3 linked regions of the Homo sapiens genome follow. The protein of the gene in region 3 interacts with the protein of the main gene of each other region in a pairwise test. Each region holds a gene or a part of one and is shown on either strand. Other genes may lie near its edges. The genes, in order: RHOJ, ARHGAP44 and TRIP10.

Region 1 (3,749 bases), on a different chromosome or scaffold from region 3:
GGGTCTTCCCATTTTTGCAGCCCGCTCCACCCTGCCATCGCCCACATTTTAACCTGGGTCCCTATGAGGACATAAGGCACGTGAGGCATGCAGTCCTTGAGCTCGGGGACCCATTCCTCCTGGACATTGTGGTAAGAGGCAGGGTTTACGACAGAGAAGCAGATCAAAAACACATCCGTGTTGGGGTAGGAGAGTGGCCTCAGCTGGTTGTAGTCCTCCTGTGGGAAGAGCAGACAAGGGTTTGTACAGCCTGTGTAAGGTGTGTCCCATGTAGTTCCAAGGTCAGATTTCAGGTAAGAGTCCACTACAGCGCACTGGGATCCCGTTTCTTCCTCAACCCTGGAATCTGGTAGTTCTTTCTCTACTAGAACTAAAGGAGCCATCAGTCAGAAAAATACCTTTTTGTTACGTACAGAGATTATGTATTGCCCCTTCTTAAGATGAACTTAAAATATTTTTAGCAGTTTTATTGAGATATAACTTATATACCTACCTATATATACCATAAAGTTCACCCATTTATTTTTATTTTTAAATTGTATACATTTAAGGTGTACAACATGGTGTTTGATATACATATATATGCTACAGTGAAACAAATTAACATATTCATCTCCTTACAGCTTACCTTTAAAAATATATTTTACGGTGAGAGGACCAGAGACCTACTCTCTTAGCATATTTCCAGTATGCAATATAGTATTATTAACTATAGTTATCATGCTGTATATTACAGCTGTAGACTTATTCACCCTAGCTAACTGCAGCTTTGTACCCTTGATCAAAACCTCCCCGTTTCCTTTCCTTACTTGCCTCTGGTAACAATAGTTCTACTCTCTGTTTCTATGTATTCAAAAGTTCACCTGACCAGGCACAGTGGCTCATGCCTGTAATCCCAGCACTTTGGAAGCCAAGGCGGGAGGATCACCTGATTCCTTGAGCTTGAGATCAGCCTGGGCAATATAGCGAGACCCTATCTCTACAAAAAAATACTAAAATTAGCTGGGCATGGTGGCACACGCCTGTAGTCCCAGCTACTCAGGAGGCTGAAGTGGGAGGATGGCTTGAGCCTGGGAGTTTGAAGCTGCAGTGAGCCGTGATCATGCCACTGTACTCCAGCCTGGGCAACACAGCAAGACCCTGTCTCAAAAAACAAACAAAATAAAACAAAAGACCAAAAGTTCACCCATTTAAAGTGTAACATTCAGTAAAGATTATTGCAATTCTTCCATCATGTTGGAATTGTGTTATATTGAATATACTATATTTAAATTAGTGAGCTATTTGCCAAGGCAACAGGAATCCTCTCCTCACACGATTAAAAAAAATTATATCCAAATTTAATTTAGAATAAATGAACTAACATGCAAAACAAGAGTTATTGCCAAATTTGACACCACAATATTTGAAGAAATATGTTGAGTGAGGGTTTAGAGCTAAGAATTTTGGATTTGTTTCAAGTATTACTTAAAGGCCAAATAAAATGCTGGCTTAATTATTTTCTTTCTAAAGATTTTTCAGAGCAGAATATGCTCATGGAAGAGTTTCTGGTTACATAAGATATTTATGTATTTGCTATTTTAGTGGGAGTTGATAAATACAAAGTAAAACTGCGCATCATTTCGACTTTGGGAAAATGTTGGCAAGGGCTTTTACTGTATGTAAAATGTTTTAGGAGGTTCCACGGTAAAACCTGATATTTCAATAGAAAGTTTTATATGTTTTTATAGAATTTAGTAACACATAAACAGACAGTAACTTTGTGTGTAAGCGTGCATACACATACCATATTTATATATACATCACATATCGCAACATGACATGTGTCCATACACACCATACATAATTTGTATGTGTATACACACTATATATGATGTGTGTGCACTATATATGTGTGTATACTATATGTGCAACTAAACTTATATGTTCACACCTATGATATACATGTATTCATAGAGATGGGTTAATAAATAATTAACTCATTTATTAGGGGCATGACTACTCTTCATGAAACATTTCAGAAACTTACAAAACATGTATGTGCTCATTGCAAAAATGCAAACATTGAAGAAGTACACAGAGTTGAAGTGAAAGCTTGTTTTCATCCCTGATATGATGTCTAATAGTATTTCCTCTCCCCAGAGGGAGCTACTGCTTAAACATTGTCCTTCCAAACATTTTATTTTACTTTATTTTATTATTTGAGATGGAGTCTCAATCTATTGCCCAGGCTGGAGTGCAATGGCGTGATCATGGCTCACTGCAGCTTCAGACTGCCGGGCTCAAGCGATACTCCCACTTCAGCCTCCCAAGTAGCTTGGACTACAGGCACATGCCACCACACCCAGCCAATTTTTATTTTTTTTGTAGAGATGGGGGTCTCACTGTGTTGCCCAGGCTGGTCTTGAACTCCTGGGCTCAAGCAATCCTCCTGCCTCAGCCCCCGCCAAAGTGCTAGGATGATAGGCGTGAGTCACCATACCTGGCCCATTTTATATTTATGTATGTATACCACATACACATGTTTAGTTTAAAAACAAATTGATTAAATTGTTCATATTGTTGTGCCACTTGTGTTTTTTAAAACAATATATCATGGATATATTTTTAATATCAACCTTTCTATTGACTCTAATAATATATTTATTAGATAACGGGTTGATGGGTGCAGCAAACCACCATGGCACGTGTATACCTATGTAACAAACCTGCACGTTCTGCACATGTATCCCAGAACTTAAAGTATAATAAAAAAAATTTTAAAAAAGACCAGAAAAGGAAGTACACACATGTGCACACTACATACACATGAGACTGAAAGGAAGTACCTTAGAATGTTAAGTATGGTCCACTCCTGTTGGTGGGCATGCATTGATCTATTGTTTAGCTACTCAGAGTATGCAGAACACGGGACTCAGTATATGTGGCCACTACTGCTACTACTATTAAAACTTAAGCACAGGTTTTAGGTACCTAATGCAAAATGCAAAGCAAGAGGGCAATGATGCTGAAAAGTAAAATCCTAAAAAATAAACCCAAAACAAAAAAAACCCCCACTATTGTGGCTAATTTACCACATTTCTAGTCAATAATTGGGAGTTGGGTGCACAGCTGAATAATCACTGGTCATACTGGGAAGTTGTGCCAGGTCTACTGGGTTGCATCTCAGCCAAGTTGTGCCTATGTCTGTGTGTGTGTGTGTGTGTGTGTGTGTGTGTGTGTTTGTGTAGCTGGTGAGGCAGTGGAGAAAGGGATAGCTAAATTCTTGGCACTACCCTCTCCTCTTTACACAACTAGCTCTGAAAAACAAACCTCCTCTTCCATGGTCTCCCCACTTCTCTCTTTTCTCTCTGGAGTGTTCCCTTAAAGAGCAGCTGTAAGGCCCGTGAGCCAAGAAGTCTCCTTCCCAGGCTATAATCTACAGCTGTTCACCACACCACCTGCCCTCTGCCACTGCATGCTCCCATCTGGATTGTCATAAATGGAGTAGGGACCATGTTGATTTTTTTCTCATCCCTACAGGTACTCTTTCCGCAGTAAATATTCAATAAATGCTATTGACAGACTGGAAGAAATGACCTCTACAGTGACCTGCAAATGAACACGTGGCACTTCTGTGGGCCATTTATTGCAGTGACTTTTATTAGAATCACCTGGGGAGCTTTTAAACCATCCTGAAGCTCTGCTAATCAACTCCTTGCTCCACCCCCTTTTCTACTCTGGAACCAGCTAAATTAGAATCTCTGGAG
Region 2 (3,749 bases), on a different chromosome or scaffold from region 3:
GCCAAGACATTAAAGACGGGTCGGCTTGACTGTCATCTGCTAAACAACGAATACCAGGAAACACTATCTCGGCATCCAACACATCAAAAGGCAGTCCACGTGAGGCTATATCTGTGGCAATACCATGCCAGAAATCTGGGCTAATCTGACTCTGCTATTCATAAATTCCCCCTCATGTTAAAGCACATGTGTTTGGGAAGGAAAAATGAATCCAAGTCAATTTTAGACATTGTTACTTGGAAACCATCTGGAGTCCCTGGAAGCATAAGAAGCCACCGCATCCCCTGCCCTCAAATGCCCACTGTAACTAGGGCAGTATGCTCAGACGGGAGTTCAGATGTCCCCTATTCCCCAGGGATGTCCCCACCCCCATCCTACCAGATGCCAGTTCAGGCTCCACTTCCCACCCAAGAAAGGTATTCGGTTTCTCCGTAAACCTAGTGGAGAGCCCTCGAGGTGTTGAGCTTGCATTTGAACTGCACCCAAGGCTGGATTCTTTGCTTTCTGATTGCTTTAGAACAGCACACCTGAATTCCTTTGCCACAGCAGCAACGGAAATCCCTCCCCAGGAGTAGGGGTTCCAGGAAAAATCCCTTCTACCTAACGCTCCTGTGTTCAAAGAATGTCTAGTCTTGGGAGCGACCCACCAGGATTTTTATGTAACCTTAATAGATGTTGGCACCCTGCAGAGCCGCTCCTGGAGTCCAGATGTAGCCCATTTTCACCGTGATGGCAGCAGGCGGGGTCTTGCAGCTTCCCGGGGCCTGACTCTTCTGACTGTGGGGCCTCTGTCCCCCTCCCCTACCTGGCTGCGATTCTCTGCTTATCTCATCTTCCCGAGGACTTGGGCCTCCTTTTTGCAGCCTCCCTCCCTCCACTGAAATCAGTCCTAACATCAAGCAGGCAGCAACGCCATTCCACCAGCACCTTCCTTCCTCTCCCACCCCTCACCCTTTCCCCCCACCAAACGCCTTAAGAAACCCGGCCAGGAAAGTGATCCAGAATCTCGTACAGTCATAGTCCCTGAAAACAAACACGGCGGGAGGGGCAGGCCGACCAGGCCCAGCACTTTCCCTGGACCCGGGAGCAGCCCTGAACTCGGCGCAGGGGAGGGGAGGGAAGAGATCTCCGGAGACCGACTGCGGTTCGGCTGCCTCCAGCACAATCAGAGCAAACACCTGTTTCCAGGAAGACAGGCGGCCAGAGGGAGAAGGGAGTCCCGGGGAAAGGCAGGGAGGACGAAGCGAAGGGGCAGCCGGGGACGCAGGTAAAGGATGCGTCACACTTTGCGCTTGGCAACCGGAGCCCGGAGCAGAAGGCGGCGAGTGAGAAGAGCTCCGGGGTCTGGGAAGTTAGGGAGGAGGGGTCGCGCCTGCGAGCGGCGCCTGGAGGGAGCTGGTGCAGGGGAAAGGACTGAGGCAAGGAGGACTGGAGGCTGGGCGGGCTCCATCACCTGCGCGCCCCTGCGGATGCAGCCTCGCGGGCGCGCACCGACAGCGGTGCCCGCGGGTGACCTACCTGCCCACCGTCTGGTTGGCCAGCTGGCGCATGCGATTGAACTGCTTCTTCATCGTGGCCCCGCTGCCGCGCTAGCCCGGGAGCTGGGGAAGGACGGAGCAGCCCGGAGCCCGCCGCAGGGTTACATGGCTCCCGCGCGGAGCCTCCCGGGCGACGGCGGCGGCACTGCGGAGCCTCCGGGCGCCGTCTGGCCCGCGCGCAGCTCCCTCCCGAGGGCGCCGCCGCCTACTCCTCCCGCCGCGCCGCCTCCTGCCGCATCCCCCTCACGCGCGCCGCGCAATGCCCGGGGCAGAGCAATGCCTGGGGCCGTCCTCGGCACCGGCCCGCTCCGCCCGGGCTGCCTGCTCCCAGTCCCAGTCCGGCGCGGGGACCCGGGAGTCTCCGCAGGCTGGCTGGCCGGCTGGCCCGGCGGTCCCCGTGCGCCTGTGCGGAGAACGCCGTGCATGCCGGGACTTGTAGTTTCGCGCCCCGTGCCCACCTTTCCTCTGTCCAAAGTTTGCAAGGACAGTGGAGTGCGGAGGTGGGAGAAGGCAGCGTCACCAGCAGCTTTGCACTTTAGCGTTCGAGTAAGGGAAACGTTTTCCTGTTTTAAAAATGGCAAAGTGGGACCAAGAATACAACAGCAAATAAAGAAAGTGAGCATCTGTCTCTCATTGTATTTTTAGTGAATGTGAGGTATCAGTGTTCTGAATTCACAGAAGGGAGATTTATGCTAGCAGATACGTGGCTGATAAAACGGTCTAAGGTCACCTGATTAATGATGAGGTTCAAGGTTAAGCTTGAAACACAGGGGCTGACAGCAGATTTTGAACAGGCATAGCTTGCATCCCAGAAGTCTGATTCTTAATTTTTACCAAACCAAACCCATTAGGTAACCAGAAGCCAATATAGATAAGTGACGTTGTGCTTACTGGCCCAACCTGTCTGAGACAGCTTTTTTGTATGGCTTAGATGCCAATCTCGTATCTAGTCCCATTTCCCTTCCACCACCAGGAGACCAAGGGGCATCAGCTGCAGCACCCCCCAAGTGTCCTGCACCACAGCATCCCATTGGCGTCAGTTGACTCCTTGGAAGGGGTTGTGGCTTCTTTGGTCTCTATCCTTAGAAAAAGATAGGTGAGCCGGGCGCGGTGGCTCACGCTTGTAATCCCAACAGTTTGGGAGGCCAAGGAGGGTGGATCACGAGGTCAGGAGTTCGACACCAGCCTGGCCAACACAGTGAAACCCTGTCTCTGCTAAAAATACAAAAATTAGCTGGGCGTGGTGGCGGGCACCTGTAATCCCAGCTACTTGGGAGGCTGAGGCAGGAGAATAGCTTGAACCTGGGAGGTGGAGGTTGCAGTGAGTGGAGATCGCGCCATTGCACGCCAGCCTGGGTGACAGAGCTAGACTCCATCTCAAAAAACAAAAAAAAAAGAAAAGAAAAAAAAGAAAAAGATTGGTGATTGCAGTTAGGTTTTATCATTATATATCAAGGTTTTATCATTATATATCAAGTAAAAGCAGTATTGTTGGGTGTGAGGCACTTTGGATTAAACAGATAGGAGTTCCTGCATCAGAATTCCACATACCTGTTATATAACCTTAGGAAAACAGCTTAACCTCTCCAAACCTCTGTTTCCTCATCCCTAAATAGAAAAATATGCTGCCTGATCTTCAGTAAGAGAACTATTTGTTAAATTACAATAATCAAATTACATATAAATTTTCATATAGTACATTGCCGTATTCATTTACTACAAAATGATTATATTTAGCATAATAGAGAAAAATCCTGTTCATACAACAGAATTACTAATCTTATAAAGGAAGGATCTTCTTTGAAATAGGATATTTTGCATATGTTGATTATAGTTGCAAGATGTCCTAAATATGGCTCTAAGTATCTTGCTGGCTAGCTGAACAAAAAGTGGTTTGAGGCATGTCTTGGCTGAATGAACATGAAATCTTTAATTAATTGTGAATTTAGCCTCTGCTTATTAGGTCAGACAACTCCAGCCAGTGAATAAATGAAGGCATTATTTGCTTTTAACCAACTATGCTGTACCTATAATGTCAATATGATGTCTATATTAAGTGAAATTATTTCCATTTTGAGATTTTTTAAAAAGCAAAGTACAACATGCTTTTTATGTGTATAAACGGTAAGACATTAAGGTCACTGTATGACTTTTAGCAACACTATCTCTGGTAACTTCCAGAACTGCACTGTTGAATATAGTATCCCCTAG
Region 3 (3,749 bases):
TTGGGAGCCTGAGGTGGGAGGATCACTTGAGCCCAGGAGTTTGAGGCTGCAGTGAGACGCAATCATGCCGCTGCACTGCAGCCTGGGTGACAGCAAGACCCTGTCTCAAAAAAAAAAAAAAAAAAAATCTACTCAAGGGTTGGGGTTAAGGAATATGGACCAGAATTTGTCATCGCTTCAGGGATTACATTCTTGGGGCTTAACCCTTTTCCACCTGGAGGTGCGTCCTGGGGCATCAGCCTGCTCGGGAGGAGGGGCCTGACTCCCTGTTCCCCGATTCTCATCCAACCCCAGATTCAGCCAGCAACAGTCCTTCGTACAGATTCTCCAGGAGGTGAATGACTTTGCAGGCCAGCGGGAGCTGGTGGCTGAGAACCTCAGTGTCCGTGTATGTCTTGAGCTGACCAAGTACTCACAAGAGATGAAACAGGAGAGGAAGATGGTGAGGAGCCCCCCGATTCAGGTTTTACAAAGGGCTTCTGCTGGAACCCTGGCGAGCCTTATCACTCTTCTTTCTGTAGCACTTCCAAGAAGGGCGGCGGGCCCAGCAGCAGCTGGAAAATGGCTTTAAACAGCTGGAGAATGTGAGTTTGCAGAGGTAGCAGTGACTGTGGCCCGGAGGCATGGGGGCAGGGTTGCGGATCCGGAGTCAGGGAGCTGCCCTCTTTGTCAGACCTGGACCTTCCCTCCCCCATAGGCTTCCAGTACTCCCTTGACCCCTACTTACTGGATGACATCCCAATAATCCCTGAAACCTTGGTTTCCCACCCTGCTGTCTTTGGGATGGTGGCTCCCTCACTCCGGTTCTGTCCCCTACACAGAGTAAGCGTAAATTTGAGCGGGACTGCCGGGAGGCAGAGAAGGCAGCCCAGACTGCTGAACGGCTAGACCAGGATATCAACGCCACCAAGGCTGATGTGGAGAAGGTGTGTGTGGCGGGGGCGGGGGGGGGGTGCGGGGTCTGGGACAAGCTTGGGGAGTCCGAGTGGGACGTGATCGGAACCTGGCAGTACCTTCCACCTCTGCATTCTTCAGGCCAAGCAGCAAGCCCACCTTCGGAGTCACATGGCCGAAGAAAGCAAAAACGAATATGCGGCTCAACTGCAGCGCTTCAACCGAGACCAAGCCCACTTCTATTTTTCACAGATGCCCCAGATATTCGATGTGAGTGCTCCCAGTTCTCAGACCTACCTTCCCGAAAGCCTCCAAATGTTAGCCAACTCCTACGCATTCATCAAAACCCCAGCTGCAATGTCCCAGTCCCTAGATTGAAAGGGAATCAGAAACCTATAGTAACAGTGAGCTGTGCTTTTAGTCAGCTGTTCTTCCTGCTGGGCATGCCTTTTACTTGTTTGTTTATTTACTTCTATAGAGAGATGGGGCCTGGCTCTGTCACCCGGGCAGGAGTGCAGTGGCATAATCACAGCTCACTGCAGCCTGGAACCCCTGTGCTCAAGTGACCTTTCTTTCTTTTTGAAATTCCTACTTATTCTTCTAAGCTCCACCTCTAACAACCCCTCTGAAAGGTCTCGAATTTCCCCTCTCCTGTTTCAATCTAGCGCTCCACTCTCTGTCCCATCCGTGGCCCTGGGAGTATCAGGGCTGGTTCTGCTTTTTCTTCAAATCCCTGTTCCCTTGTCTCCTCCTTTGAGAAGCCTTTGCTGACCCCCTAGGCACGCGTCCCCCTCTGAGATCCCCCTGGCCCTGTGTCTCTTCCCCAACCACAGTGGGCTGGAGTCTCTCTTCCCGACTCTGTCTTCCCCTCCAGACTGGCTTGGGGCTGGGGCCAGCGTGGAGCGCGATCATATTTGCAGAGTGAATCACTGTGCTTCTAGTCCCTCTGTTAGCACCCCTGAGCCACCCTTGTCCCTGTCCTTACAGAAGCTCCAAGACATGGATGAACGCAGGGCCACCCGCCTGGGTGCCGGGTATGGGCTCCTGTCGGAGGCCGAGCTGGAGGTGGTGCCCATAATAGCCAAGTGCTTGGAGGGCATGAAGGTGGCTGCAAATGCTGTGGATCCCAAGAACGTGGGTGCCTGGTCTGGGTCCACTGGGCTACGGGAAGGGCAGAGGGAGGTACCCATAGGCTAGGCACTCGACTGCTCATCCACTGTCCCCCTCCCCCAGGACTCCCACGTCCTTATAGAGCTGCACAAGTCAGGTTTTGCCCGCCCGGGCGACGTGGAATTCGAGGACTTCAGCCAGCCCATGAACCGTGCACCCTCCGACAGCAGTCTGGGCACCCCCTCGGATGGACGGCCTGAACTCCGAGGCCCGGGTCGCAGCCGCACCAAGCGCTGGCCTTTTGGCAAGAAGAACAAGGTGGGGGCCGGGACCCTTGGGATGGTGGGGGAGAAGGACAGTGAAGTGGGGACAGTGGGGCCCCTATTGAGTCAGCCCCAGCCGCCTGAACGCCGAGTCTCGGGCAGGAATTTTCCTCTTGGCTGCCAGCCCGGACTGGAGGGAAGGAAGGCGGCCGATTGGCCTGGGAGTCCCCCGAGGCGAAGGCGGGGGCAGGGTGGGGAGGTGGGGAGGTCCGTGGCGTTTGTCTGCTGCTTCTCGGGATGCTGGGAGAAAACCTGCTGGTGGAATTCAGGGCTGGCCTGAGGGCTGGTGACACCATCCCTGGGGACTCCCCGAGTTTCTCTCTCCATCCTGCTGATGGGACTCTGGGAGCCGCCCTGCATGTCTTGCTTTCTTGGGTTTTTGGATTTTAATATACCTTAGCACCCTTGGTTTATACCTTTGATTTATACTTTGGGTCCCTCTTCACTTACACTCTCATACCTCTCCTTGACTTAACACCTGTGATCCCCGAGCTTAAACTTCTGATGCCCCTAACCCCTCTCATTTTCCTGCCTTCCACTCCCTCTCGGCTTGTGGTTTTATTTTTGTTTATTTATTTTTGTCCTCTGTGGCCTCTTACCTGTCTGAGACCTTGATTCCTGCATGCGTCTTCTAGACTGTCAGCCCAGAAAGCTAAGTGGACAGAGAGACATGGGCCTCCCTGCCTCCTGGACCCATGCTTGCTCCCGGACATAACATTCCAGAGACCTAGGAGATACCGGGGGAGTGAGAGTTCTGGCTTTCGGGCTTACAGTTCAACATCCTCCCCGCCACCTTCCAGATTTTTTTGTGTCGCTCCTGCATGCGTTTTCTCTGTGTGGTTGTGCATCTTGAGTTGTGGTTTTCTTACCGTTTTTTTTCTTTCTCCATTTTGTTTTTCCTTTTTCCTTTTTTTGCGTCCATCCGTCCATCCGTGCGTCCATCCCTCCGTCCATTCGTCCTCACTCTCTACATCCTCCTATGCCCCCCCACCCCTTCAACCTATCCCCCTCCCCGGCCCCCGCCGGTAGCCTCGCCCCCCACCCCTCTCCCCCCTGGGGGGCCCCGTACCCTCGGCATTGCCTAACGGACCCCCGTCCCCCCGCTCCGGCCGTGACCCCTTGGCCATACTGAGCGAGATCAGTAAGTCGGTCAAACCGAGGCTAGCATCCTTCCGCAGCCTTCGAGGCAGCCGTGGGGTAAGTGAGGCCTCGGGGCAGGAGGAGGTGGTGGCCCTAGCCTGCCCAGCGGCGGGTGGCGGGACCCTGGGCTCGCTTCCTGCCGCTGGCTGGGCCCCTCTTCCCTGGTTGCCCAACCCAGACCTGCTTTGCTCTGTGCATGGCTTCGCTGTCAAGAACCATGGCTGGGGAAGGGAGTGAAATATCTCAGACGGGTGCAGAGTCTGGCAGGCTAGACTCCTTGAT

The links.
Region 1: the proteins of TRIP10 (region 3) and RHOJ interact in binary tests that used the Homo sapiens proteins (3 or more experiments, as listed by UniProt).
Region 2: the proteins of TRIP10 (region 3) and ARHGAP44 interact in binary tests that used the Homo sapiens proteins (3 or more experiments, as listed by UniProt).

The regions. Positions count from the first base shown.
Region 1 is NC_000014.9:63,277,440-63,281,188, reverse strand, and holds part of RHOJ (rho-related GTP-binding protein RhoJ), read right to left. Parts: intron 219-3,749; coding exon 54-218; intron 1-53.
Region 2 is NC_000017.11:12,787,661-12,791,409, reverse strand, and holds the start of ARHGAP44 (rho GTPase-activating protein 44), read right to left. Parts: upstream 1,913-3,749; 5' UTR 1,572-1,912; coding exon 1,519-1,571; intron 1,268-1,518; exon of another isoform or gene 1,126-1,267; intron 1-1,125. UniProt on the Homo sapiens protein: GTPase-activating protein (GAP) that stimulates the GTPase activity of Rho-type GTPases. Thereby, controls Rho-type GTPases cycling between their active GTP-bound and inactive GDP-bound states. Acts as a GAP at least for CDC42 and RAC1.
Region 3 is NC_000019.10:6,742,673-6,746,421, forward strand, and holds part of TRIP10 (cdc42-interacting protein 4), read left to right. Parts: intron 1-294; coding exon 295-442; intron 443-521; coding exon 522-584; intron 585-821; coding exon 822-926; intron 927-1,035; coding exon 1,036-1,164; intron 1,165-1,881; coding exon 1,882-2,028; intron 2,029-2,127; coding exon 2,128-2,322; intron 2,323-2,962; coding exon of another isoform or gene 2,963-2,983; exon of another isoform or gene 2,984-3,062; intron 3,063-3,356; coding exon 3,357-3,524; intron 3,525-3,749. UniProt on the Homo sapiens protein: Required for translocation of GLUT4 to the plasma membrane in response to insulin signaling. Required to coordinate membrane tubulation with reorganization of the actin cytoskeleton during endocytosis.